Linked DNA regions of Homo sapiens. The protein of the gene in region 4 interacts with the protein of the main gene of each other region in a pairwise test. Each region holds a gene or a part of one and is shown on either strand. Other genes may lie near its edges.

Region 1 (7,190 bases), on a different chromosome or scaffold from region 4:
ACATTGGTATTATTAAGCACTTGAGGCTGTCTTTTGTTAATCCAGAATGTGCTTATTTAGTCAGTGAGTTTTTCCTTTCTTCCTAGACCTATATCTTGCTCCTAGAGTTGGTTAGGGTTACATCATCACTGTCAGCAGTCCTCATTTTATGGTTATTTAGGTGCCACATCTCTCAATTACCAAAGAGATCAGTACAATGTGAGGCAAAGTACCTTTTTTTTTAAAAGCTATAAGATATCAGATTTCTTTCATTTAGCCAATATTTTGGTTTTAGAGGGAGGTTTTTAAAAAGTCACCGAGAACTGAGGATCATGTGTGTATAGAAACACTGTAATCTGATAGATGAGTCTTAACTAGCAATGTCTTTGCTTATCATTTATTCTGACAGTGATCACCTGCATTAATTATCCTAATAGGCGATATCAAGTGTTTATACTGAGGCCATAAGTAGAATGTTCATTGAGTTTGTTATCAGGGCTGCTGATCATGAAATTAAACTGTAGTTGTGCACATGTGTATTGTTTCATTAACTTGCCTGCCTATTCAGCCTTCTGCAGTAATGTAGCTTCTCAGAGCACAGGAGAAAAATGTATCTGAGAGTTATTCGAGAGAGAGTTCAACAATAGCCCATATTTCCGAACATAAATCTAGTGAGCCGCATTAAAGTTTCTTCATGTCTGGATGGAATAGTGTCACTTGCATAGGTCTGAGGGTTTCATTATTTGCCTGCCCCAGATTTGGACTCCGTTTTTCAGGTGAAAGAATCCTTGGATAACTGTTTCATTTTCATAGGAAACCTCTTTGGTTTCGGGATCCAAAGTAATATGTAGGTTCAATATTTTGTAGGTTTTATAATCAAATGTCTCCCTAAAGAGATGACATAGGGAAGAAAAGCCTAATGTATCATCTTAATGGATTCAGTTTTTATTATGCACAAATAACTGGGCTTGTAACCTAGGAATATGATTAGAGCGTGATGCTGGCTTAAAAAATAGGACTGGTGAATCACAGTTTGTGAATAATAAACTACTGGTTGGAAATATTTCCCAGAAGCAGTTTTTTTTTTCCTTTCTATCTTTACCTATATCCCATGTTTGGTTTCAAACTTCCCTGCCTTAGAGCAACACAGCTGGTTTTAGACAGTCTTTCTATCAATATCTTATAATCTTTGCTCATGTACAAACATACAGCAAATACAACGGTATAAAAATACGATGTTATCTATTTTTGTTCACTTTTTCCCCACAGAACATCTTCTGTAACCCGGTAGAAAATGTTCTGAGTACACCATCACATTTGTCACTTTAGTAGCACCTTAGTAAACCATCATCCATGTAAAAAAACATTGAGCTTCTCAGCCGGGCTTGGTGGTTTGCGCCTGTAATCCCAGCACTTTAGGAGGCCAAGGCGGGTGAATCACTTGAGGTCAGGCGTTCGAGAGCAGCCTGGCCAACATGGCAAAACTCCGTCTGTACTAAAAATACAAAAATTAGCTGGGCAAGGTGGCATGCACCTGTAATCCCAGCTACTCGGGAGGCCGAGGCAGGAGAATCGCTTGAACCTGGGAGGTAGAGGTTGCAGTGAGCTGAGATCACACCACTGCACTGCAGCCTTGGCAACAGAGCGAGACTCTGTCTCAAAAAGAAAAACAAAAAACAAAAAACATTGAGCTTCTGTGCCCAGCCGTGGGTTGGGGACTGGGGTTATAACTGATCAGGGTTGATGTGGTAATAAGCCGAGCTTTGCCTGCCAGTCATCTTGCTGTGGCCATAGGGATCATAAAGAAAGGGGTATTTTCATTTTTTCAATTATTTTATGTTTGGTGCTTTCTGTATGATAACAGGGGAAGATATTTTTTTTTGAGGCATTATCTCAAAGTAATCATATTCATTGTAGAAAAGTTAGAAAGGATAGATAAGCCTAAATTAAAAAATAAAAAACAAGCCTTCTATTATCTTATTTTCCAAACATTACCTCTATGAAGATTTTAAACAATTTTATTGAGATATAATTCACCTATCATCACAATTCACCCATTTAAAGTGTACAATTCGGTGGGTTTTAGTATATTGACAGAATTCTGCAGTCATCACCACAGTCCATTTTAGAACATTTTCATCATCCCAGAAATAAACTTCATACCTATTAGCTGTTACACACCGTTTCCCCCCAAACCTCCTAGTCCTTGGCAACCACAAATCTACTTTCTGTCTATAAATTTGCCTATTCTGGACCTCTTATATAAATGGAATCATACATTATGTGGTCTTTTGTAACTGGCCTCTTTAACTTAGCATCATGTTCTCAAGGTTCATCCATGTTGTATAATAACATGTGTCAGTACTTTGTTCCTTTTTATTGCTGAATAATATTCCATTATATGAATATACCACATTTTATTTATCCATTGTATTAGTCCATTTTCATGCTGCTGATAAAGACATACCCGAGACTGGGCAATTTACAAAAGAAGTAGGTTTAATGGACTTACAGTTCCACGTGGCTGGGGAGGCCTCACAATCATGAAAAAAGGTAAGGAGGAGCAAGTCACATCTTACGTTGATGGCAGCAGGGAAAGAGAGAGCTTGTGCAGGGAGCTTCCCATTTTTAATACCATCAAATCTCGTGAGACTTATTCACTATCACAAGAACAGCACGGGAAAGACCCATCCCCATGATTCAGTTGTCTCCCACGGGGTCCCTCCAACAGCACATGGGAATAGTGGGAGCTACAAGATGAGATTTGGGTGGGGACACAGAGCCAAACCATATCATCCATCCATTGAGGGACATTTGGATTGTTTCTGCTTTGGGACTATTAATAATTCTGCCATGAACATTTGTGTACAAATTTTTGCGTGGACATTTATTTTCACTCTTCTTGGGCATATATCTAGGAAAGAGATTGTTGGGTCATATGGTAACTCTTTGTTTAACCTTTCAAGGAACTGTCTGACTGTTTTCCAAGGCAGCTGCACTATTTTACATTCCCACCTGCAATGTAGGAAGGAGGGTTACAGTGTCTCTTATACCCTCACTGATACTCGTTATTACCTATCTTTTTAATCTTAGCCATCCTGGTGGATGTGGAGTGGTAACTCATTATAGCTTTGATTTGCATTTCTCTAATAACTAATCTAATATCTTGACATATGTTCTTTCAGATGCTTTTTCTGTGCACATATTTACAGGTAATACTTTTCTTCCCCACACTGGAACATATAGATCTATGTCAATCAGCTTAATTCTGCAACATTATTCTTAATTGGCTGCGTAGTATTTCTCTGAATGGAATGGATGTACCATAATTTGACCACTCAATCATTTAGATATTGAGGCTGTTTTTATTTTTTTTTATTTTTTCACTACACAGATATGTTTTTATTTTCATTATAAAAATTATAACAATGTAATGAACTTTCTTGTTGCTAAACTCTTGAATGAGTTTTAAGTGCTTAGTTATTTCCTGGAGATAGATTCCTAGAATTGAAATTTGCTGATTGTATGTAGTATTTTACAGCCCTCTCCCCCAGCCCTAAGCAATGTTGAGTGTTTTAAAAACAAAACTAACCTTAAATTGTTTTTATGATAGGCGGTTTAAAGTATGCTATTTTCTTTTATCAGTGGCCACTTTCTTTTAGGAGCGTAGACTTTAAAAGTTGGATGAAAATAGAATGTTTACATTTTGTTTATATTTTGAAGATGTAAATAAACCAAGGCAGTCTCTGGATGATACCCTTTGTACCTAAAAGCTATTGAGAAAATGTTTTATTTGGATTTGTTAAATGACTCATTTGTGGGGTCCTTTAGTTTGCAGTGGTTTCAGATCAACTTTCTAGGAGATGTGGCACCCATGAGCACCCTGAAATACCTCGGGATAATTCTCTGGTTTTGAGGGTGGCCCGCCTCCTACAGATAAGATTCTTTGTATGGTCGGTTGTGAGGCCATTTAAAACTTTTGCCTTAAGACTTCATAAATCAGAGTTGATACATTGATTGTCCCTTTTGGAGGCTGCAGTTCTTAAAACATGTGGCTGTTTTTCCTAGGAATATTTAAGTACCACTTGATAATAAAGTACTACCTTTTGCTGGGATTATCTACCTGGAAAAAAAAAGGGAACAAAAAATTAAAAATAAAATGTAATATCTGTGGTGTTTTATTTTTTGTTTTGTTTTGCTTTTCCTGCAAATTTATTCTTCCAAAAAAAATGTCCCTTTCAAAATAATCACCCTTTGGCGTGAATTTACGGGTTATTGAAATCAGTCTTAAAAAAATTTCCAGTTAAATTTAACAACTTATCTAACCCATTTAATAATTCAACTTTAAAACAAAAACGAACCTTTGAAAACAAATATTTACTCTTAAGCCAGTTATCCTTATACAAGTTAAAACATTCTCCAATTCCTTCCAGTCTTTGCTTAATAGGACTTTTACATGATTCACACTACACTTTTGATCAAAATTGTTATTACCCAGTTTGATCACACAATTTATTGAGGACACTTGGATTTGGTTTTCAGCTATTTATTAAAATGAAATCCATCCTAAAGTGAACAGGATTTTTACCATTTAGGGGATTCAAAAGTATATTCTTTGAAGGGAATTTCCAAAGAATTCCAGAAATATTTTGAGCCCTAGAAGCATGTATGAATAGATGTGTAGCCTCCCAAGATAACTGGAATCAGAGTGCATTAGACTGCTTGATGGGCTCTCGGCCATGTAGTCCAATGAGTCTCAATTTTTTCCCCTTCCAGCTGCACATAAGAAATATGGCGCACATCCCTCAGTAACAGTATGAGCACATCAGAACCTAGGAGGGTGGTGTTTGGGGCACCCTCTCTCAGGCATTACCCTCCTCTCCCAAGCTGAGAAAAATTACTACCCTGCTCTGTCTTCCAGAGCAGACAGATGGGAAAAGGCAACCAGCAAGGGCTGGTAACCTGTCCAGGGTCATGTGTGAGTGGCAGAACCAAACCTTAAACTTGATCCTCCTACCTCCCTTTGAAGAGAAGCCCCTGCAGTGCTTATGTTCTGGTGCGTATGTTGGGACAAACCAGTCTGGCTACCCTCAGTCATACCCTGAGGAGCTGACCAAACTATGTGGCCATGAGAGAAGGATCTAGAGAAGGTCTAGGCCAGTAGGCTTTCTTGTAAGCTTCAGGAAAATACCCAGATAATGTTATTTTTCCTCCGTTAAGAATCATGGCCTTCTACCCTTTGTTGCAGTTGTGCGAAGATGCCATTTTGAGATGGGAATGCTGCCTTCACCTGAGAGTCTCCATCAAGGAAATTGGCCATTTTCAACTGTAGAGTCAAATCCAGCAATCATGGAGAGAGTAGGGATTAAAAGCCTGCTCGGCTGGGCACAGTGGCTCACGCCTGTAATTCCAGCACTTCAGGAAGCTGAGGCGGGCGGATCATAAGGTCAGGAGTTCAAGACCAGCCTGGCCAACATGGTGAAACCCCATCTCTACAAAAATACAAAAATTAGCCAGGCATGGTGGCGGGCACCTGTAATCCCAGCTACTCATGAGGCTGAGGCAGAAGAATCGCTTGAACCTGGGAGGCGGAGGTTGCAGTGAGCTGAGATCCTGCCATTGCACTCCAGCCTGGGCAACAGAGACTCCGTCTCAACAACAACAACAAAAAATTGCCTGCTAAGCCTAATTCACAGTTTAAGCTAATTTCTTTGCTTGGAGTCTAATAATATCCAAGCAGGTGCATGTTTTCAGTAACATCTCGCCTAGTCATATGTCTGAAAGAACAAAACTGAAAGTTCTTTCCTTAGAGGCCTTTAACCCAAGCCGCTCTTCTCTAGCTCAGTCACAGCCTTCACCAAGAAGTCCTGAAAAGATAGAACTCTTGCATTACCGTGCTGGTTCTGGGTGTTTGCCTTTGCAGAGGCGCCACCTGCCAAGCAGTTCTGGCACCAGGGAGCAGGTCTGTGATGACAGGAGAGAGACAGTGGCTGTGACTCTGGCTCTTAAACCACAATGGAGGGATTCAAGTTAGCTTAGGTAGCTCTCAGAGGAGACTAATGAGGGAAGGAAGGAGCAAGGGGGGAAGGAAGGTGCCCCTGGGAGTGTGTCTCACTTCCCTTGCTGGTTCATCCGAGAAGGCAGGGACCCTGGCTTGCTGATGGTTGCATCCTCTGTGGCATTTAACGTGGCATGCTGGTTATACCCACTGTAGGGGGCACTCAGCAAATATTTATTGAATTCTTCTTTGAGACTCATTAAGACCAATAAAGGGGCTGTATTATATCATCAAGCAAGTGGGTTGTGGATGGGGGTGGGAGGTATTGCTTCAGCTATATTTTATATTCTTTAATGGGATTGCACCAGTTGTGTGTCTTTCTACAGAACTAGAGGAGCTTTCAGGATATTTGCTTGGGTGGACGTGACCCATAGTGTGTAGTGTTCTTTTGGTGGGCTCTTCTTATCAGTAATGAGATTAATTTTTCCATTGCCAAACTCCATGAGGTAAACAGTTTGTGATTATTTCATGTCAGTTTCATTTTTCACTCAGCATGATGTTTCACTGTTAAAAAAATGAACCTTGGCCCAGAGTTGTCCTCTCATGTATTAAACATGACTTCCTTTGTTAGTAGACTAATTTATAATTATAATTCAAAACCATCCCATTCTCCAGTGGATTATTTCCCCCCTCTCTGTCAGATGAAGGAATAATTGTTTGTCTGGGCTGCAGGAGTGTCTGTCATGGAAACCGAATTTTTCTGTACATTCTCTGAACAAACAGTGCTGTCACATCCCTAGAACCTGACATTGTCATTGATCTCCAGTTGAGTCAGAGAAGTTTGTTGACCAAGGTAAATCAGATCTCTCTTCTCTTAAAGCAAATGGCCCATGACTCCTGAGGGGCCACTAGGAGTGAGAGAATCACCTGTACAGGGGGCCACAACTGTGGCTAGGAATGTGTTACTTGAGGCGGTGCTTCCCAGCCATGACTCAGTCACCTGGGGAGCTTTTTAAAAACGCTGTGCTGGGGCCCCATCCTATGTGAATGAAATTGGAATCTCTGGGAGTGGGGGCCGGCATCTTTTCTTTTTTAAAAAAAAAATGTTTAAGGCCAGGCTCAGTGGCTTACACCTGTAATCCCAGCACTTTGGGAGGCCAAGACAAGAGGATCACTTGAAGTCAGGAGTTTGAGACCAGACTGGGCAACAATG
Region 2 (7,190 bases), on a different chromosome or scaffold from region 4:
AGTGTATGACTGGGGCATACACAGTTGAATCTTGTCCTGCATTCTCATCCATTGCCAAGTTTTCATATGAACACTAGATGATAGGTAGTACTGCACACTAATCATTTTTTCTCTTTTGTCTTTTGTATGGTCTGTTATTTTTGACTGAGGATTTCTGGCACATTTAGGGTTATTTGATCCACTGCTACACGTTTTTTTTTTTTTTTGAGACGGTGTCTCGCTATGTCACCCAGGCTGGAGTTCAATGGCGTGATCTCGGCTCACTGCAACCTCTGCCTCCCAGGTTCAGGCGATTCTCCTGCCTTAGCCTCCCGAGTAGGTGGAACTGCAGGCGCCTGCCATGATGCCCAGCTAATTTTTATATTTTTAATAGAGACGGGGTTTCACCATGTTGGCCAGGATGGTCTCGATCTCTTGACCTCGTGATCTGCCTGCCTCAGCCTCCCAAAGTGCTGAGATTACAGGCATGAGCCACTGCGCCCGGCTGCTACATGTTTGTTTAGGTCCACAGTGACATAAATTACTGTTAAGTATTCTGGACTCCAGCTTTAATCAGATTTTAGTATGGTTAAGCCAAGGTTTTGTTGAACATGTTGTAAGTTAAATTGAGCCACAACAGCTTTACAGTAATAACTTGCCTAGTGTTAAAAGCACTGTCAGATTAGTATACTAGTCTGAAATTTTGAGGGGTATGCTGCTTCTCTTTTTTAACGTTACCCTCCTTTTGAATATATGCTGCTTAGGTTTTGCTAATTAGACTAGAGGATTTTTTTGTATTCATTCATTCATTCATTCATTCATTCATGCATTCATGTTGAGCCGGAGGCTCGCTCTGTCACCTAGCCTGGAGTTCAGTGGCACGATGTTGGCTCACTGCAACCTCTTTCTCCTGGGTTCAAGCAATTCTTCTGTCTCAGCCTCCTGAGTAGCTGGGATTACAGGTGCGTGCCTTCATGTCCGGCTTTTTGTATTTTTAGTAGAGATGGGGTTTTGCCATGTTGGCCAGGTTGGTCTCGAACTCCTGACCTCAGGTGATCCACCCACCTCGGCCTGCCAGAGTGCTGGGATTACAGGTGTGAGCCGCTGCACCCGGCCTTTTTTTTTGTATTTAAATAGCGTGCAATTATTTGGTCAGTTGGAACTCTGCAACAGAATATGACCTTGGTCATAGAATCTTTGTAGAAGTCAGTGTTTTAACTCTGTTTAGATCTTGAATCTGGCACAGAGGGTGTTTGAAAGATTCTGAGATCCTGGCCTGTTGGGTGGCAGGTGATTCACCTTTGGCACACAGATGAGCTAGGTAGTGGGGCTGGCTGAGGAAGTAGGGTCCTGGGAATCAGAACATGGAAGGATATGAATGGTGATGTTGGATCTTGCTGCTCAGTGACCCAGGCCTTTTTTTCCCTTTTTAAAAATTTTTTGAGACGGAGTTTCGCTCTTGTTGCCCAGGCTGGAGTGCAATGGTGCGATCTCGGCTCACCACAACCTCTGCCTCCCAGGTTCCAGTGATTCTCCTGCCGCAGCCTCCTGAGTAGCTGGGATTACAGTCAAGTACCACAATGCCCGGCTAATTTTGTATTTTTAGTAGCGTTGGGGTTTCTCCATGTTGGCCAGGCTGGTCTCGAACTTCTGACCTCAGGTGATCTGCCCACCTCCCAAAGTGCTGGGATTACAGGCATGAGCCACCACGCCTGGCCTTTCTCCTTTACTTCACATACTTGCTCAGTCTTGTCACTGTCAGTCCACGTTGTGGACACTGTGATCTTTATTTTTCTATCTCTAGAGGTTCGTTTGTATTATGCTATCAGGATTTTTATTCTAAAACTTACTTTAATGAGTATTTTTACAATTTTAATTTTGAGACAGTCTTGTTCTGTCGCCCAGGCTGGACTGCAGTGGTGTGATCATAGCTCACTGTAGCCTTGAACTCCTGGCCTCAAGCAGTTGTCACGCCTCAGCCTCTGGAGTAGCTGGGTCTATCTGTGGCTGCACGCCACTACGCCTGGCTATCTGGATTTTAGAACTTTGTGTATTTCATTGTAGAGGAAAGGGAGGTTTTACAGTTAAAACCAGTATTCATCTCACCAGTTGGCAGCTCTGAAGCCATTCTCGTGGTTAATGATGTTAGTTTCAAAAGCATAGTTGATTTCTGGATTTAGAATGTGATCTATATCCTTTATTCTTTCCAAGATATCGGAAACTGGCACTGAAGTGGCATCCAGATAAAAATCCTGAGAATAAAGAAGAAGCAGAGAGAAAATTCAAGCAAGTAGCGGAGGCATATGAAGTGCTGTCGGATGGTGAGTGACAGCGAGCTGCTGAAGGACCCTGAGCGGGCATGCCGGAATGCGGAGTGGGTGTTGGGATCCTCCTCAGGGTAGCACAGTATGGACTCAAGTGACTTGTTTTTGATGCCTACTGGATTTTGGGCCCTTCTAAGAGATTTTTACTTTTCTCGTGAAGATTTGAATTGATTTAGGTAACCACGAGTGCTGGGGAGCTCCAGGGCTTCTAGTAGTTTCTCCTAGGATGGCTGTTTTAAAAGCGGGACTAGACATCCTGGGTTTGAGGAACCTGGGAGAGAGGAGGTTGCGGGACTCAGGTCACTGTGCATGTGGCGTGCTTGCCCCCGTTGTGTGTGATCATTCTGACCTTGCTCACCCCCACTGGCTTAAACAATACCATTCCAGTGGAGTCAGCTTTACTGCTTGAGAGGATGTCATTAGTTCCCAAAAAGAGGGGATGGAACATACAGCTAAAATTTAGATTTCCAGTTTCAGGCCTGTTTTCCCCTCCTAGGTCTGGAGCAGAGGTGTTCTATGTTACTGGAAGTCAGATCCATTGGCCTAGTTCACAAATGGGTGAGGGGTCAGAGGTCAGCTGTCGCCTAGATGCAGTCAGGGTTCCATGGGGGAAGTAAAGGCTGTGCATGGGGCCTGGGGTGGGGGAACAGTGACAGAACTGGAAAGCCACACAGTGCCCCTGTCTGCTGCAGTGCTGGGTGGCCTGTTGTGAGCAAAGGCCGAGGCTTTTCCAAGGTTAGGGATGGACTAACTGAACCCTGGAAGTGGGCACTTGGTTAAGTGTATCTGCATGTGGTCAGGTAATTGGCCCTTATTTACAACAAAAAAAATTTTTTTTTTTTTTAAAGAACCCAATTTGAGGCAGAGGTTGCAGTGAGCCGAGATTGCGCCACTGCACTCCAGCCTGGGCGACAGTGCGAGACTGTCTCCAAAAAACAAAACAAAACCAAACCAATCAGAAGGAACCCAGTGTAAGCTTGCCACCTTCAACAGCTACCAGCACACCACCAGCCTTGCTTTCTCTGGTGACACTGTGGCCCACCCCCTTTGTTTTAGAGGAAATTCCAAACATTTTACTTCAAAAAATATGAAAAGACATAAAAACACCGATATTTGAAGTCTTCTTGAAATGTGGCATTTAAGGTCTTGAACTGTTGAGCTTATTCATTGGAAAGTTTATTTTTTTTAAAGAGAGAGGATCTTGCTATGTTTCCTAGGGAGGCCTTGAACTCCTGGGTTGAGGTGATCGTCCTCTCTCCTCAAGTTCCAAGCACCATTGCGCCAGGCTTGTTCCCTTAGATTTGTGCGCTGGGAGTGACAGAGGAGGGCACAGGCCTCAGTGTTACCATCTTGGTCTTCGGTCCTTGTTGTTTGTGTGCTAATTCAGTATTGCCAGATTCAGGATTTTAGGGACTAGTAACATTAGGAAAAGTGAGGGCCAAAATGAAGCTTCATATTTGATAGAGCAGCTTTAAACTACCACACTGAAAAGTCGCTTGGTTCTTTTGGGAGGTGTATGAGGTGTGTTTTTCATGTCCTTTTAGGCAGCCTTCAGTGCCAGCTGGAGTTGTCTTCAAAACATGGTCATTGTTCTTGCCATGGCACTGGCTACCTGAAACTGCTTGCAAGTGGTTTGTTTCTAAGCTCGTTTTCCCATTTTGTGGAATGTGAGATTTTCTTCTACTTTTTAAAAATTGAGAAGGGGTCTCACTCTGTTGCCCAGGCTGGAATGTAGTGGCATGATCACAGTTCGCTGCAGTCTTGACCTCCCAGGCTCAAGCGATTCTCCCATCTCGGCTTCCTGAGTAACTGGGACCACGGGTGGGTGCCACTGTGCCCAGCTAACTTTTTTGTATTGTGTTTAAAGGTGGGATTTTGCCGTGTTGCCCAGGCTGGTCTTGAACTCCTGGGCTTAAGTGATCCACCTTCCTTGCCCACGCAAAGTGTTGGGATTATAGGCGTTAGCCACTGCATCCAGCCTATGAGATTTTTTGAGGAACGCAGATGGTGTCATGTCAGAAGTACCAGTGCTTCTAATGTCATTGTTTTTGTTCTGGGATATAAGTAGCATTTGGAATGTAAGTGTGAAGACTGTCAGTGGAGAGGGGCACACTAGCCCCAGGCCTTGCATCCGGGTGGTCCACTTCGAGGGTGAATGAGCCTGTAGGGTGTTAGGTTGGCGCCTTTCTGGCACATCTGCTTTCTCCCACTTGCCTAGGCCCTGGCATGTTTGTTTTCGTGCTGCAGATATGGTCCTCTAATTGGGTTTTTGTAGTAAGATGGTGCACTTCTGTGGTTGCAATAATCTTGTACTTGGTCGTGTGATTTTAATGTAGCATGTCTGGGCTCTGTGCAGTAGAGTGAAAGAAACGATCTAATGGAATAAAGAAAAAAATTTTTTTTTGCTTTTGAGATGGAGTTTTGCTCGTTGCCCAGGCTTGAGTGCAATGGTGCAATCTGGGCTCACTGCAACTTCTGCCTCCTGGGTTCAAGCGATTCTCCTGCTTCAGTCCCCTGAGTAGCTGGGATCACAGGCATGCGCCACCATGCCTGGCTAATTTTGTATTTTTAGTAGAGACTGGGTTTCTCCGTGTTGGCCAGGCTGCTCTCGAACTCCTGACCTCAGGTGATCGGCCCTTCTCGGCCTCTGAAAGTGCTGGGATTACAGGTATGAGCTACCTCGCGTGGCTAAGTCCCCCCCGCGCCTACTCTTGTTGCCCAGGCTGGAGTGCAATGGCACGATCTTGGCTCACCACAAACTCCGCCTCCCGGGTTCCAGCTATTCTCTTGCCTCAGCCTCCTGAGTAGCTGGGATTACAAGTGCCTGCCACCACGCCTGGCTAATTATTGTATTTTTACAAGAGATGAGGTTTCACCATATTGGCCAGGCTGGTCTCAAACTCCTGACCTCAGGTGATCTGCCCACCTTGGCCTCCCAAAGTGGTGGGATTACAGGTGTGAGCCACCATGCCTGGCCGTAAATACTTAAATATTTCTAATAACTTGTAAAAATTCAACATACTGAATTTTTTTTGAATTGTTTTTCAGGAGAGAGGTACAGAAAGTTTTCCCTGTTGCTTTGTTTTGTTTTAAAGAAAAGGTGGCCATACTCCTTGAAATTCAGTTGTAAAACATCGAAAACTGATTTACAACTGGGGAAATACCTTATCTATTGAATTAAGGGTTTAAAAGGAACTTGGCCTTACCGACTTTTCTTTCAATTTTTAGCTAAGAAACGGGACATCTATGACAAATATGGCAAAGAAGGATTAAATGGTGGAGGAGGAGGTAAGTACGTGAGTTTTTTCTTTGAAGACAAAAGGTCTTGGCAAGTAAGTTGAGTTTGTAAATCACGAGTCTCTTGGTCAGAGTCGATTTTGTATCAGTAAATAGAGATGCAACGTAGAAAGCGAACTAAATTGGGGAGAGGACAGAGAAATTGATGGCATTTAAAAGTCTTTTACGAGACTAGAAGTATATGTTGATGTATTTTTTATAGATAGAAACAATTTGTAACCATACTGCAATATATTGTGAACATATACCCTTAGATCAGCACTTGACGTTATGTCAAAATATCCTAAGGGTTTAAAGAGCAGATTTTCCTGAAAAGCTAAAATAATGACTTTGAAGGGCGTGGACTTTGTCCCCAAAAGTTCCCACGGTCACTGGGCTGTGACCAGCCTCCCCAGGGGTGTTGGGAAATTATTGCTCCAAACCCACTGGGGCCACGCGGCAGCTTCTGTGGCTCCAGGAGGCCAGTCGTCGAAGTGGATGCAGATACTCTTGGTCTTCATAAACCTTCATAACAAATCATAAAAATGGTGTGTAATGTTACATGTTATATGCCGATCACGGATTTAGAGATGGTGAAAAGTAGTGTCGAAGGGGCCACTGCTGCACTCATATGCCATCAGCGCTGGGCACACTCACTCTCTGTCAGTACAGGGCTCATGTTTTGAATTATAGAGAACTTCAGGTTTATGAAATATTTTTGTTTTTATTAGTTCATGATTTGTATAATGTTTTGTCAACAAAGAATTCTTTGCCTACAAAGCACCAAAATTCATAAACTAAAAGCTGTGTTGTATTTGTGCAGGTGGAAGTCATTTTGACAGTCCATTTGAATTTGGCTTCACATTCCGTAACCCAGATGATGTCTTCAGGGAATTTTTTGGTGGAAGGGACCCATTTTCATTTGACTTCTTTGGTAAGTTAATCACGTGGGTTGACTTGGTGTGTGTCCATGACCCAAATGAGGGCTTACTTAGTATGGCCTTTCTGTTGAATTAACATTGTATTTTAGGCTGGGCGCGGTGGCTCATGCCTGTAATCCCAGCACTTTGGGAGCCTGAGGCGGGCAGATCACCTGAGGTTGGGAGTTCAAGACCAGCCTGACCAACATGGAGAAGCCACGTCTCTATTAAAATACAAAATTAGCCGGGCATGGTGGCGCATGCCTGTAATCCCAGCTACTTGGGAGGCTGAGGCAGGAGAATCACTTGAACCCGGGAGGCAGAGGTTGCGGTGAACTGAGATCATGCCATTGCATTGTTGTCTGGGCAACAAGAGTGAAACTCCTGTCTCAAAAAAAAAAAAGTTAACATTGTATTTTGTCACGAAACTTTGTGTTTAAAGCAGCATTGGACTAGCCTGAACAACATGGTGAAACCCTGTCTCAACAACAACAAAAAAAATACTAAAAATTAGCTGAGTGTGGTGGCGTGTGCCTGTGGTCCCAGCTACTTGGGAGGCTGAGGTGGGAGGATTTCCTTGAGCCTGGGAGGTTGAGATTGGGCCACTGCACTCCAGCTTGGGTGACAGAGCAAGGCCCTGTCTCAAAAAAATAAAACAGCACAGTAGCTGTAAAATCTTTTCTCTTCTTCC
Region 3 (7,190 bases), on a different chromosome or scaffold from region 4:
GGTGGGCAGGCCAGGTCCTGTGGGGCTCCAGTGGCAGTGGAGAGGAGCTATCGCCTTATTCTTGGTGCAGTGAAAGCCCTTGGGAGGCTTTAGCACGCAGGGGCATGACTGGGTTTCCATTTTGTTGTTTTACTGACCCTGCTTATATGGGGAGAATGGACTGAAAGGTGTCACAGGAAGAACAAGGAAGGAGGTTGTGGCAGAGAAGGAACGTGATGTCTTGTGAGGGCAGCAGGGAAGGAGGAGGGAGCTTGGGGACACAGTGGGGAGGGAGAATGACCACATCTGAGCACCATGGGTTACATGAAGGTGCAAGGGAGAAAGCAGAACAAGCACAGGTGACTTCTAGGTTCCCAGACTCACCAACAGGGCATGTGCTGGTGCACTTACGGACATGGCTCGACAAGGTATGGGAGGAGTTGGGGAATGGGGAGGGAGAGGCGAAGCTCTCCTGGCTCATTTGTAATGACTGAGAGACACCCCGGTGGGGATGGCTGAGGCTTGGATGAGCGAGTGTGGGACTCAGGGGAAGGGACACAGCTGTATTTTGTGTCTGTTTAAGTGACTGTCTTGCCCAATAGTCTAAGGACATTTTGAGGGGAGGATGAGGCCTTATTTCTCTTCCTCTTCCCAGCATAACTACATTGCAAAGTGAATAAGTAAATTAATTAATTAATTAATTAAAGGTTCAAAACAGGCACTCAGGAAAATGTTCCAGTCTTAAGTCCTTTTCAATCATTGGACATGGGAACCTCCACGTGGATATGCATGGGTATTCGTGTCTGTGTGAGTGTGCACACACATGTGAAAGTCTGGGATCAGAAGGAAAGTGGTCTCGTGGGGGCAGTCAGTGATGAATGGGCACCAAGTCCCCAGGCCCAGCAAGACAATGGTGTTTGAAAACAGACAGGACGGTGAGCTGGAGGGGCGAGTTCTGGGAGGAAATAGAATGCTGTCCACGAAGAAGGGAGAGACCAAAGACACACCATGAGGAGACAACAGCCCAGGGCCTAGTGACCCATGGCATTTAGAGAGGAGTGAGCAGAGCACACAGGAGCGTGTGGTGCAGAATGCCCTGGACAGCCTGAACTGCTCCACCCTGACAGTCTGGGAGCTCTGCCTGCCCCTCTCCAGAGGGAACAGCCCTACCCTGGAAGGGGCTGTGGGTCTGAGCCTCTGTCCCAAGGCTGGGTAAAGACTGAATTGAGTCAAGTTGAACAAAGAGTGAAGTTTGCCCCTTGCCCCCTCCTTGCTCTGCCACCACCTGGCTGTGTAACCATGGATGAGTTACTTAACCTCTCTGAGCTGCAGCTTCCTCATCTGTGCAAGGGATGCTTCTTTGGGCCTCTCTCTCTCCTTCCAGCTTCTAATGCCCTTATAGTCTCTACCTTGAGAGACTTGGGTCCTCCAGACCCGCTTACTCTCCCTGCTGCTCTCAGACACCCTCCTGCTCTCCTAAGCTTGGCCAGGAGAGGGACTTTCTTCCTAAAATCAAAGAGAGCCTGCGGTGCTTGAGCAGCCCTCTCCATCTGTCAGAACAGCCTCATGTCCACTGAGCTTGGTGGGATTGAGGATACAGTCTCCCGCTGGAGACACCATTCCTCCAAGTGGCAAAGCAGAACTCCCATCACCTTACTCTAACAACTCTTCCTTCCCCGCCTTCCTATGTGTTCTCCAGCTTCAAGTGAATTCACTCCACCTGTGCACGTATGTGTGGAGGGAGGAGACATTTTTAAAAGATCAAGGAAGGATGGTGCTTGCCACAGGAAAAGGAACAGTTAACAGACAGGCCAGCCAGGCTAAAGGTCATCCTGATGGTGGGGGAGTGGGTTGGGGCAGGGACATCTGCTCTGTGCCAGGAGCCAGGAATGGGAATACAGAGCTGGAAAAAGACAAGGTCCCTGCAAGGGAGATAGACGCATAGGCAGACTGTGCTGGAACAGGGCACCACCCTCCCAGTCCTACCTGTCCAGCAGGGCCTTGTAGCTGAGTACACCAGAGATGAGGCTGGCTGCAAACCTGCAGGGAGAAGGGAGGCCTGAGCCCTTCCTCCCAGGGCCTGGCTTCCTCCCTCCCTCCCTCCCTTCTGCCTCCCCTCCCTCCTTCCCTCTTCCTTCCATCTCCTTCCTCTTCCCTCCCTTCTCCCTCCCTCCTCCCTCCCTCATCCCCACTGCCAAACTCTGTGATCGCCCATTGTATGCCGCCCCCGTGTGCACTAATCAGATGTGGTTCCTGCACTAATCAGATGTGGTTCTTGCCCCCCAGCCCCATGCCGAGAGCCCACCACAAGCCTTGGATTCAAAATGGTCCTTTGGTGAGAACTGGGGGTCGAGTAGCTCTTGGGGAAGGGAGAGGAAACTGGAATCATCTTGAAGAGGAGAGGGAGCAGAGAGGGAGACGGAAGCTAGGAGAGGCCACAGAGCAGGCCAGAAGGGGTGGAGGGTGAAGGGTGGAGTTCTTCCTTGGAAAAGCCAGCCCTGGGTCTGGACAGGGCAGGACCCCTGGCCTTGTGGAAAATTTTCTCCTGGGAAAAGCCAGTAATTTGGTCCCTTTCCTCCCACCCCCCGGTACTAATGAAAAGGAAATCGAGTGCTTGGGGAAAGGCACTGGAGAAACGAGCAGCGGGAACTGTCATACCAGGATTCTGGGCCTGGCTTAATTGCACCAGGAGGAAAATACCCCCTCAGATGCAATTGTGAGAACTGTTTTCAGAAGTCATTCATCTGTCCACACCTTCCTTCTTCCCTGGGGAGACCCCAGCTACAGTGGGAGGGAAGGCTGGCCAGCTGGTAGGGTGGGGTGGGGAGGTCTTCCTAGCATGGCTAAGCCCTGCCCAGAGGAGAGGTGGGCCCTGCCTCTTGTCCTCGGGCCACTTTGGTCTGCCCTCCCTCTAAACCGTCCCCACCATTTGCCCCACTCAGGTCTTAAGACCAGACTCTGAGTGACTCCAGAAGGGAAACCCTTTCTCCCTGCACCCATCCTCCATTGTCATTAGCGGCCAGAGGCCCTTCCAACGGCTCAGTGAGCTCTGAAATTACAGCAGATGGCACAGGCTCTGGCTGCTGGCAGGGAGGAATTGTTTCCAGCCTTCTGGGGCCTCTGTTTAGAGCTGGGGGCTCTGGAAGGAAGCAGAGGCCCTCTCAGACAGCCTGGGGCAGTGTTTCCCAGGGACAAGTACTGGCGTGGTCCAGGGACACACGCCTCCTCCCAGGGCCTCAGCCAGGTGGAGGCTGTGGGGATATTTGGACCCATGACCTCCATGAGTGTCCATTCCACTGCAAGATAAATATAGACTAAGGCTAATTGTGTGATTGTCACTCGAGTGCAGCCACACCTAACCTTGCTCCCCACCTGATGGCCTGGACGTCCACTGTCTCGGGGCATTTGACCCCAGGAAGCTCAGCCGAGGCTCCAGCTTTGGCCTTTCTTTGCTGGCACTGGGGTAAGGGCCCCTGCCTTGGGTGGGTCCCCAGGTTATGAGCTAGGAGCACCAAGGCCTCACCTCAGCTGGTCATCGGTGCCAGGGAAGTGCTGCCGAGCAAAGATCACGGCAGGGCTGGAGTTGACAGGCAGGGCCAGGCGGTTGTTGAGATACATGTCATTCAGCCAGTACTCAGACACCTGCCGGGGAGGGCAGGGAAGGCCGTCACATCCCCCCAAACAGTCCCATCCTGACAGCCCCGAGAGAAAATCGGGACACTTCACCAGAGCATTAATTCATTCATTCCACAAATATATGCTAAGCCCCAGGTATGTGCCAGGAGCTTCCCAGTCCACCAGGCCTGTCCTTCACCTTTGTGCCCTCCTGTCTCCTTTCTTCTGTCCCAGTCCCCATCCTGGTGGCTTGGTGCTACATCGCTGTCCTCTGCCTGTCCTTACAGGTGTCTTCTTCCTGCCTTTCACCCTCTCTTCTTTCCTAATGCGATCTCTGTCCTCATCTGTCCCAATTCCTGTCCCCGATTTGTCCGCCTCTTTCTCTATCCGTATTTCCCATTCCTCATCTTGTTTGTTTCTCATCCTTGTCCCTTCCTGTCCTCCAATCCATGCCACCTGCCTGTTCCCACACCTATCCCCCATCCCTGTCCCTCATCTCTCCTTCTGCCCTGTCTTTGTCCCCTACCTGCCTCTCACCGAGATCCCTCTGTCTCCAGGTCTGCCTCCCGCCCCTCTTCTATGGGTTCCTTGTCTGCCCCTCTTACCCAGTTGGCTGTCTTCTCCTGCCGCTCCAGGAGTTTCTGCTGCAGGGTCTCGCCGAGGCCACCAGGGGCCCCAAACTGCTGCACAATGGCCTGGCTCTTCCTGAACTGCTCCTCAGACACCAAGTGTCGCATGCACTGCAGGTACGTGGCCAGGGTCTGCTGCAGCGGGGGCACGGGCAGTTTGGGCAGCCCCTGGAAGAAAGGGTTCATAGGCATTGTGCCTCTAGTATGTGCGCCCCATGCCTGTCCCCAAGTTGGTCCCTAGTATCTGTATTGTTCTGCCCCTGTGTTGTTCTCTACCCTGGGACCCCTCCATTTCTAGGGCTCAGCTCAGCAAAATTATGAATTTAGGAAGTTCCTGTTTGGCGTCCCTGACCTCATTGTGCTCTGTCCCCAGAAAGGGATAAAGTGCAGAGGAAAATACGGTGATATTGGCATCAGACAGACCTGGGTTTCTACCCTGACCCTGCCACTGACCAGCTCTGCAAACTTGGGCAAATCAGCCTCCCTCTGTGCCTCAGTTTCTTCCTCTGTAGAATGGGAGTAGTAACCCCTATCTCTCATAGGATCAAACAGAAAATAGATATGAAAGTGCTTTTAAGCCATAAAGGATGGATCTAAGATGAAATAGTCCTGTTATTGATATTGTTGGCTGCTGGTGACTCTTAATTTAGAGATTGTTCCCAGCTGGGGCTCCAGAATCTGATTGATCTCTGGACCTGAAGGGGGCACTCTTAGGGAGAGATTTGGAAGGATAAAAGATGGTTTTGGATGAGAGACATAATTCAGTGCTGCCCTAATGACTAGAATTCTAAAAGAGGGTTCCTCAGAAGATGATTCATGCCCTGAGCTTCTTATAAGTCCCTCCTACTTATAAAACCCAGGCAGGGAATTTTGTTTCATGTGGGTGTTAGGGGCAGGGGTGGGGATGCAGTGGATGTCCTTCCTCTCCGAATCTCTCCAAGCCTCTGCTCCTCATCCATAGGACATAAATAACAATTCCTACCTGAGAGGAACACAGAGAGAATTAAATGGGGGAACAACTGGCCTCAAATAGGCACATCTAAAATGTTATGACCTCGCTATCTTATACTTCCAGAGGAATTCCCAAGAGGAAACCCATATTCTTTGGGGGCCCCAAAGTGTGGCTAGAGTCTAGGAAGAACCCCCAACTCCACCCTTCTATACGCATGCTGTGCCTCTCAGTTCACCAGCAGCGTTCACCACAGAAGGCTTCTGTGTGGCTTCAATTTTGTGACTTCCCATTTATGAATGAGGAAACTGAGTCCCAGAGAGTGGAGCAGCTGGTCCAAGGTCACATACAAATCTGATGGCAGACTAGGAGCTAAAATCAGTCTTCCATGTCCACTCTGCTTCTTTCTCCTGGGTCGTTCTCTCCCTTCCCTTTCACTCCCTTTTCCATTCGTTTCCTCTTCTTGTCCCTCACTTGGCCAGTGACAATAGGAAGGCAGAACTTATAATAATATTGCTTAAATTGTACAGTTTCTTCTCCTGTAAAATGGGGGTAGCAAACCCTGCCTTTCATAGGATTAAAGAGCTAATGTACGTGAAAGTGCTTTTAAGCCATAAAGGATAGATCTAAGATGAAATAGTCCTGTTATTGATATTGTTGTCTCCTGGTCAGTCTTAATTTATAAACTGTTCTCAGCTGGGGCTCCAGAATCTAGCTGATCTCCGGACCTGAAGGGTGTACTCTTGTGGAGAGATTTGGAAGGATAAAAGATGGCTTTGGATAAGAGACATAATTCATTGCTGCCCTAATGACCAGAATTCTGCAATATGGTTCCTGGGACACACTGGTAGACAGTGAGGCACCTTCCTTCAGGGGCTTCTTTGTGCAGTGATGAGTTTCCATGAGACAGTAAAGGGTTCCTCCCCATAGGCTGCAGAGTGAATGGGCCCCTTAAAAGCACCTCCTTCTCTGCCCCTGCTGCTGATGGATGAATGACGGCCCTCTGCCTGTCTGATCCTGCCTCTAGGGTTCACTTCTCTGGCAACAGTGGGGTGTCAGTGCCAACTACGGGCTGCTCCTGCCCTGGGGAATGATGCGAGGATGGATCTGGACAGCATCCCAGACTGCCCTGCCCAACCCCAGTGAGCCAGGTCTGGGCCCCCAACCCAGCTGATCTTGTTCTTCCATCTCTTGCGGTGGGGGGGGTGGTCTGTGTGATGGGTGGGTGAGCACCTACAGAAAGCCCAGCCCAGTTAGTGACCTGGCCAAAAGGGCCCACAAGTCTGGCTAGATCCTCTGCCAGACACTGCTCCCCTTCTTCCAGGCTCTGACAGTGCGCTGTGACTTAGCCTGGCTAACAGGGAATCAGCAGTGGGTAAAAAGGAATAAAGCAGGAAATCGCAGCTCAGACATCTCAACCCCCCAGGGATCCTCCCCAGACTCTCCTGGACTTCTGGCCCTGTGCTAAGGAGTGTCTTTGGACCTGGGAGTCTCAGATCAATGCTCCAAAACTCCATGTTTCCTGGGCAGTTCATGTGAGTCAGATCCTGGGCTGGACTCAGAGACGATGGAGAAACAGAGCCTGCTCTGAAGGAAGCCACAGCCCAATGGGGTGGGTAGAGAAGCATGCCAGTGGACCAGAGGTGACAATAGATGTTTGTCAGCTGCAGAATTCAGGGCAATGGAGTGAACAGCTTCTTGGGGAGAAGCCAGAAAATTCTGCTCAGGGTTTCAAATGAGGGCTGGGGGAAAGGGGAAGGGGGAAGGGGGAAGAGGAGTGGCAAAAAGACAAGTGTGGGAGAGGGGAAACACATGCAACCACCTGAAGTCAGGTGTGTTGCTCTGCCACCCGAAGGCTGGCTGGGGCGGGAGGGAGGATGCCTGCCCAGGGAGGATGGCATTGTCTCAGGCCAGTGGAGAACATGGTGCCTAAGGCTCCAAGGCTGAACTAGTGATAGCAGCTGGAGCTGGGACTTGCAGGGCTTGGAGTAGGAATTCAGCCCCACCCTAAGGCAAAA
Region 4 (8,001 bases):
CATCTGTACCAAACACATACAATTTAAAAATTGAGAGTAGGCCCACTCAGAGTTCCAAATTTACACCTTGAGAAAACATTGTCACTATTCTGAGTCCTCTATCCTAGTATGTATCCTCTAATTTTCAGATAAAATGATTACCTGGTGAATGGATAACCTTACAATTTAGTGAGTTCCCCAAGATTAGAAGTGTTGAAACACAAACTGAATAAAGATATTTTTATTATTACTTGGAGGAAGAATCCAAAAACTCTGTAATTGCCTGCCATGCCCACTGCCCCCTCCTGAGATGAGGCAAGGTTCTTTTGTTTGCTTTGATTTCAGCTATAAGTATCAACTCTAAAAACCAAAAAGAGATAAGACACAGAAAAGAAGAAGAAATTCTAACATATGTTTAGTTAGAACCTGAGAAGGAAAGGGGGAGAGAATGATACGGGGGCTTTTTGAAGGTATAATGACTGAAGATTTTCCTGAACTAATAATAGATATCCATCCATAAATTTTAAAACTCTACAAATCCCAAGCAGACAAATAAAACACATTTATATATCTTACACTAAAATTACAGAAAGCCAAAAACAAAACAGTCAGAGGAAGACAAGGCAGATTACCATCAAGGGAGACGAGCTAATCAAGACTGTATGATACTGGCACAGGAATATAAAAAATCAGTGGAAGAGAATAAAGAGTTCATAAACATACCCATGCACATATAGACACTAGGTATATTTGAAGACCAATGAGAACACAATAGACCTTCCAATATATGGTATTGATAAACTGGGTATTAATAAGGAGGGGGGAATCTGACTCTTACCTCATAACATATACAAAAACCAGTTGCAACTATATAAAATATCTAAACATGAAAGTGAAACTTATGGCTTTAAGCATAAATATAGGAGAGTATCTGCATGACCTTGGGACAGGGAAGGATTTATTTAAAAAGATACAAAAAGCACTAACCATAAAGAAAAAATATTGATAAACTCAGCTTTTTAAAAATTAGAACTTATCATAAAATCATCTTACAGGAAATGATGAAATAGTCCAAATAGTAGGAAAACAATCAATAAAGGACTGAGATCCAGATTACATAAATAACTCATACGAATCAATAAGAGCTATTCCAAGAGAAAAATGAGTAAAGATTTGAACTGACATGTCACAAAAGATGACTAAAAACCAATAAACATATGGAATATGTTCAATTTTATTATTAATCACGGAAACCCAAATTCAAACCTGTGGGGGTGGGCGGGTATAAGTACAGATATATATTCAAATGAGGATTTAAAAGTCTGGCATGTCTGATTTGTATATCATAGTTTTTGCAAACATCAAAAATGTATTTCCCAAGACCATTTGATGACATGGGAGAATATTTCTGACACTTCTTTTTGCAAAAATGTAGAACATCAAATGGTAAATGAAATAAAATTTGGTTTTTGACAAATAATGAAAATACATTAAAATATTAACCCTAGTTATCTGAGTGGCTAAATTTTATTTTTTCTTGGTAATGCTGTGTTTTTGAGATCTCTAAATTAATCATCCTTTTATTTTTAAATCAGAATAAATATTTGAGAAGAAAATTCAGCAAGCATAAGTGGAGCAACCATCCTTTTCTGTGATGGGAAAATTATAGGGACCTATAATTAAATGACATTCCTTTAAGCAAGAATTTTCAGAAGAAAAAGAGGAAACCCCAACACACCTTGGATACTGCTTGTAGAAGTTCATCATGCATTCTTTCCTCCTCTTCTGGGTGACACCTGGAGAAAGGTAAAATTGGGAGAGGGAAGAGTAACTGTGAGACACCAGGTTTTTCTTGGTACCCAGATTAGTCAAGTAAGAGTTCTTCCCCAGCCCCATTACCCACCACACATGAGGAATGGAGATCAGAGGAGAATGGGGCATTCTGTCCAATTCCAGTGGCTCAGGGGAAAGGTTGTGTTCACTGCTGTCCAGGGTTGGAATCTGACCAGACCTCAGAGAGGTTTCCTAGAGACAGAGTTCTGGAGTCACAATCGCATAGTTGACAGGACCCCATACTCATACACAGAATGCCACATACATTTAGGGACAGTCACACTTAAGGCGACATGCACGTCTCACCTGCCCACAAGGAGCCACACACGGCAACACAGTTACAATCACATACACACCATAGGAAACACACAATTACAGCTGCACAATCGTAGGCACCCCACACTGTCGCAGAGTCACAATCACACATCACCACGGGAACACACAGCCACAACCCCCACAGTGACAGGTATCCCATATCCGCACATAAGCCGCAGTGTTATTATCTCCCAGACAATTTCACAACCTCCCCTCTTTTTTTGGGGGGGTGGGGTGGGGTGGGGACAGAGTCTTGCCCTGTCGCCAGGCTGGAGTGCAGTGGTGCGATCTCGGCTCACTGCAACCTCCGCCTCCCGGGTTCAAGTGATTCTCCTGCCTCAGCCTGCGAGTAGCTGGGATTACAGGCGCGCGCCACCATGCCTAGCTAATTTTTGTATTTTTAGTAGAGATGGGGTTTCACCATGTTGGCCAGGATGGTCTCGATCTCTTGACCTCGTGATCCTCCTGCCTCGGCCTCCCAAACACAACCTCCACCTTTCAGGCCGCTCCGCCCGCAGGGGCCCAAGGCGCCAGCTCCCCATCGGTCTTCGGTATCCTCACCTAAGCCCTTTCCAGTCATCCCGGATGGGAACTTGCAGACCTGAGCCAGTTCTCCTGGGGACCAAAATATCTCACCTCCCAGATCTAAGGGTCCCGCCAGGAGTGACGAAACGTTCGAATTCCTGCGAGAAAAGTGGCAGGCCACCAGGCCCTCTGGGAAATGTAGTCCAGAGCGGGACCCACGCCGATTCCTGTCAGCTCCTCGCCTGGGCCCACCCGAAACGGCTGCTCCCTCAACTCTCAACATCCAGCCGAGCCTCGGAGTTGCGGGTCGCCGTAGCGCTGCGCAATGGAGATGAGCCTCCCGGGGAACCCGGCCCAAGCCTCACCCTCACACAGGAAAGCAGATGTGTTCTGGCCGGAAGTTGAGTGGGGCCGCGGGGCCTGCTGGGAGGTGTTGTCCTCGGAAACGTCGCTGGCGCGGAGGGATGGTTCGGCGCTTTAGGCGTCTGTCACAGACCTATCTGCGGGTCGCCTTCACCCAGCATCTCAGAAACTGCGCGCGGGATGAACATTCGGGTGTTTCCGGCAGGTGACGCTGCCGAGTCCCCGCAGCAGGGGGCGAGCAAGGGACTCGCGGTTGACGGGACACGGATCCTCTAAGGCCCAGAGTGTCCCGAGTAGCGGCAGTGGGGAGTGCTCAGGGTACGCTAATGGTGAGTGGTTGCAGTTGATGGGACAAAAAACTGTGATGGGAGTTAGTGTGGGTGTGTGGTTGTGTGTGTGAGTGTGACGGCACGAATAATCTGATGGGGTGATTGTGATATTTGGTTGCGCGGGATTATGATGAAATGTGTGATATGTGTGTGATTATGATTAAGGCTGTAGCGAGTGTGAACGTGGCGAAGTGTGCGTGATTGTAATATGTCTAGTAGTTCTTGTCTTGAGCTGGCTTTTCTGTAGCATTTGGCACAGTTGGTAACGGCTTGAAAAACACTTATTTGTTTTCTACTGATCCTCCCTCCTTGTTGGCCACTCCTCTGTAGTCTTCTTTGCTGTCTTTTTTACCCTAGTAGCCCTTGGCCCTTTGTAATTTTCCACTATTCCTTGGCGAACTTTTCAGGTTCATTATTATCTTATGACTTGCTGCTTTTATGTATGTTAGTTAGCTATTGCCATGATAATAATTATGTCTAAAAACCACCCCTGAACTCAATGCCATACAACAGCAAGTCCTTACTCTCCTGTTCACAGGCTTGCGCATTGACTGTGTTCAGCTGATCTAGGTGGGGCTTGGCTGAGTGGATAGGCTGCGTGACGAGTTAAGATCTGCGCCGCATGTGTTCTTTCAGGGTCTCAGGCCAAAAGGACATTTGTTGCCAGGGCATGCTCTGCTCCTGATGGGTCACCAGAGCGCAAGAGAGATTGCCTCAACCAGAGCAAGTCACATGGCTAAGCCTAAAATCAATTATGCCCACAGTTGGAGAGCAAAGTTACCTCGCAAAGAGTATGAATAATAATCTATTAGAGGGTGTGAGGAATTGGACTAAAATTCCAGTCTACCACCTTAAGAAACATACCTCTTTATCCTGGTGAATGCCTTTTAGTCCGGGTTCTCTTTTGTCTGATAATATTGCTTTTCAAGTTTTATTGTATTTCTTAAGAATTTCATTTTCTAACCCCCTTGTGTCTTTATGTTTCAGATCTGTGTCTTGTAAAGAGCATATTGCTGGGCTTACATCCGTTTATCTTGTTTGACTGTTATTTTAATAGGTGAGTATAGTTCAGTGGCATTTATCATGATTGCTCATAAAAAATGTTTTATTTTCTATTACGCCTTAAACATTTTTGATTGACATATAATAGTTGCACATATATCTTTTTTTATTGTGCAAATTCACCTTATCCCTTTTTCTCCCCTAGGTTGGTTTCTGCTATTATCCTTTTTTAATATGCATGCTTAACAAAACTCAACCTTAAGACTTTAAAATACTTGAACTCCAAAATATCCACCAATTTCTGTGTTATTCTTGTCTCATATATTATTTTCTTCTAGTTTTTGTTGTTGTTGTTGTTTTGTTTTGTTTTTTTGAGACGGAGTCTCGCTCTGTCACCCAGGCTGGAGTGCAGTGGCACGGTCTCGGCTCACTGCAAACTCCGCCTCCCGAGTTCAAGCGATTCTCCTGCCTCAGCCTCCCGAGTAGCTGGGACTACAGACGCGCCACCACGCCCGGCTGATTTTTTGTATTTTTAGCAGAGACAGGGTTTCACCATGTTAGCCACCATGGTAGATCTCCTGACCTCGTGATTTGCCGACCTCAGCCTCCCAAAGTGCTGGGATTACAGGCGTAAGCCACCATGCCCAGCCTATTCTCTTCTAGTTTTAAATCCCCAAATTAGTAGTAGTAGCTCATTTATTCTATATACAGTTCGTATCCAGGAGGGGTTGGTTTCAAGACCCCCCATGGATACCAGAATCCACAGATGCTCAAGTCCCTACATCCTTCTTTATACATTAAATCATCTCTAGATTATTTGTAATACCTAATATAATGTAAATGCTGTGTAAATCATTGTTACACGTTATTGTTTAGGGAATAATGAGAAAAAAATCTGTACTGTACGTGTTCAGTACAGACACAACTGTAGTAGGCCTAACTGTATTTTTTATCTGAGGCTGATTGAATCTGAGGATGCAGAACCTGTGGATAAGGAGGACCAACTATGTATACACACATGTATATTTAATTGTGGTAAAATACACAACATAGAATTTACCATCTAAACCATATATAAGTGTACAGTTCAGTGGCATGAAGTACATTCACATTGTTATGGTACCGTCACCACCATCCAGCCAGAGAACTCTTCTTCTTGCAAAACAGAAACCCAGTACCTATCAAACAATAACTCTGTACCCCCCTTTCCCCCGGCCTATGGCATCTACCATTCTACTTTCTGTCTCTGAATTTGACTATTCTAAATACTTCATATAAGCAGAATCATATGTTGTTTGTGCTTTTGTGACCCTGATTTAACTTAGCATAACGTCCTCAAGATTCATCCATGTTAGCATGTATTGGAATTTCCTCCTTTTTTAAGGCCGAATGATAAGTATGTCATATATGGATAAATATTTTGTTTATCAATTTATTCATCATTGGACACTTGGGCTGCTTCTACCTTTTGGCAATTGCAAGTGACACTGCTACAAACATGGGTATACAACTATCTGAGTCCCTGCTTTCAGTTTTTTATATATACATGTGGTAATGTCTGTTTTTAATCTTTGATTGTCATAGTGTTTTCGATAATGACTGAACCATTTTATCAGCATATTTTTGAGCACCTACTATGAATATCAAAAACAGACAAAAATAAGTCCTTGTTTTCATGGAGTTTATGTTGAGGGGGGTGGGTGGACAGTATATATAACTAAATTATAGTCATGTGCCATATATGTATGGACTATATACATACATGACAGTGGTCCTGTAAGACAGTGGTCCCCAGCCTTTTTGGCACCAGGGAGTGGTTTTGTGGAAGACAATTTTTCCAGGGACTGGGGGATGGGAGGGTTATGGTTTCAGGATGAAACTGTTGTCCCTCAAATCATGAGGCATTAGATTCCTATAAGGAGCAAGCAACCTATATCCCTCGCATGCACAGTTCAGAAGAGGGTTCACACTCCTGTAAGGCTGTAATGCCACCACTAATCTGATAGAAGGTGGAGCTCAGGCGGTAATGCTCACTCACCTGCTGCTCACTTCCTGCTGTGTGGCCTGGTTCCTAACCAGGAACCAGTACTGTACCAGTACCGGTACGTGGCCCAGGGGTTGAGGACCCCTGCTGTAAGATTATAATGGAGCTGAAAAATTCCTGTCACCTAGTGACTTTCTAGCCAATATAACACTGTAGCACAATACCATTACTCATGTGTTTGCAGTGATGCTGCTGTAAACAAACCTACTCTGCTGCCAGTCATATAAAAGTATAACATAAAATTATGTACAGTACATAATACTTGGTAATGATAATAAATATGTTACTGGTTCATGTGCCTACTATACTATACTTTTTATCATTACTTTGGAGCATATGCCTATTTATTTAAAAAAAGTTAACTGTAAAACAGCCTCAGGTCCTTCAGGAGGTATTCCAGAAGAAGGCATTGTTATCATAGAATGTGATAGCTCTGTGTGTGTTATTGTCCCTGAAGATCTTCCAGTGGGGCCAGATGTGGAGGTGAAAGCCAGCACCAATGATCCTGGACACTGTGTAGGCCTAGGCTAATGGGTGTTTGTGTCTTAATTTTTAACAAGAAAGTTTAAAAAGTTAAAAAATTTTTAAGAAGATAGCTTATAGAATAAGGATATAAAGAAAAAATATTTTTGTACAGCTGTACAATGCATTTTAAGCTATGTGCTACTACAAGAGTCAAAAAGTTTTAAAAAATTGAAAAGCTGGCTGGACACAGTGGCTCACCCCTATAATCCCAGCACTTTGGGAGGCCGAGGCGGGTGGATTACAGGAGGTCAAGAGTTAGAGACCAGGCTGACCAACATGGTGAAACCCCGTCTCTACTAAAAATACAAAAATTAGCCGGGTGTGGTGGCAGACACCTGTAATCCCAGCTACTTGGGAGGCTGAGGCAGGAGAATCACTTGAACCCAGGAGGCTTAGGTTGCAGTTAGCCAAGATGGTGCCATTACTCCAGCCTGGGTGACAGAGTGAGACTCCATCTAAAAAAAAAAAAAAATGAAAAGCTTATAAAGTAACAAAGTTATAGTAAGCTAAGGCTAATTCAACAATTTGAAGAAATAAAAATTTTATAAATTTAGTGTAGCCTAAGTGTACAGTGTTTATAAAGTCTACAGTAGTGTACAGTAGTGTCCTAGGCCTTTGCGTTCACTCGCCACTCACTCAGAGCAACTTCCAGTTCTGCAAGTTTCATTCATGGTAAGTGCCCTTTACCAGTGTACCATTTTTTATCTTTTATATTATATTTTTACCATTTCTCTCCTGTGTTTAGGTATGTTTAGATATACAAACACCTACCTTTGTATTGCAGTTGTCTACAGTATTCAGTACAGTAACATGCCATACAGGTTCGTAGCCTAGGAGCAATAGGCTATACCATATAGCATAGGTGGGTAGTAGGCTATACCATCCACATTTGTGTAAGTACACTTATATTTGCACAATGATGAAATTGCCTAATGACACATTTCTCAGAGCATATCTCTGTTGCAAAGTGATGCGTGACTGTATATATTAATAGTTTGTTAGAAAGTGATCACTGTCGGCCAAGCATGGTGGCTTATGCCTGTAATCCCAGCACTTTGAGAGGCTGAGGCCAGCAGATCACCTGAG

Evidence for each region.
Region 1: the proteins of ZNF829 (region 4) and ERN1 interact in binary tests that used the Homo sapiens proteins (3 or more experiments, as listed by UniProt).
Region 2: the proteins of ZNF829 (region 4) and DNAJB6 interact in binary tests that used the Homo sapiens proteins (3 or more experiments, as listed by UniProt).
Region 3: the proteins of ZNF829 (region 4) and CHAT interact in binary tests that used the Homo sapiens proteins (3 or more experiments, as listed by UniProt).

Annotation. Positions count from the first base shown.
Region 1 is NC_000017.11:64,119,955-64,127,144, reverse strand, and holds part of ERN1 (serine/threonine-protein kinase/endoribonuclease IRE1 precursor), read left to right. Parts: intron 1-7,190. UniProt on the Homo sapiens protein: Serine/threonine-protein kinase and endoribonuclease that acts as a key sensor for the endoplasmic reticulum unfolded protein response (UPR).
Region 2 is NC_000007.14:157,360,971-157,368,160, forward strand, and holds part of DNAJB6 (dnaJ homolog subfamily B member 6), read left to right. Parts: intron 1-2,190; coding exon 2,191-2,300; intron 2,301-5,531; coding exon 5,532-5,591; intron 5,592-6,402; coding exon 6,403-6,513; intron 6,514-7,190. UniProt on the Homo sapiens protein: Has a stimulatory effect on the ATPase activity of HSP70 in a dose-dependent and time-dependent manner and hence acts as a co-chaperone of HSP70. Plays an indispensable role in the organization of KRT8/KRT18 filaments.
Region 3 is NC_000010.11:49,616,926-49,624,115, reverse strand, and holds part of CHAT (choline O-acetyltransferase), read right to left. Parts: intron 4,392-7,190; coding exon 4,200-4,391; intron 3,622-4,199; coding exon 3,503-3,621; intron 2,020-3,502; coding exon 1,966-2,019; intron 1-1,965. UniProt on the Homo sapiens protein: Catalyzes the reversible synthesis of acetylcholine (ACh) from acetyl CoA and choline at cholinergic synapses.
Region 4 is NC_000019.10:36,913,248-36,921,248, forward strand, and holds the start of ZNF829 (zinc finger protein 829), read right to left. Parts: upstream 3,045-8,001; 5' UTR 2,764-3,044; exon of another isoform or gene 2,708-2,763; coding exon of another isoform or gene 2,549-2,707; intron 2,005-2,548; coding exon of another isoform or gene 1,921-2,004; coding exon 1,883-1,920; intron 1,776-1,882; coding exon 1,718-1,775; intron 1-1,717. UniProt on the Homo sapiens protein: May be involved in transcriptional regulation.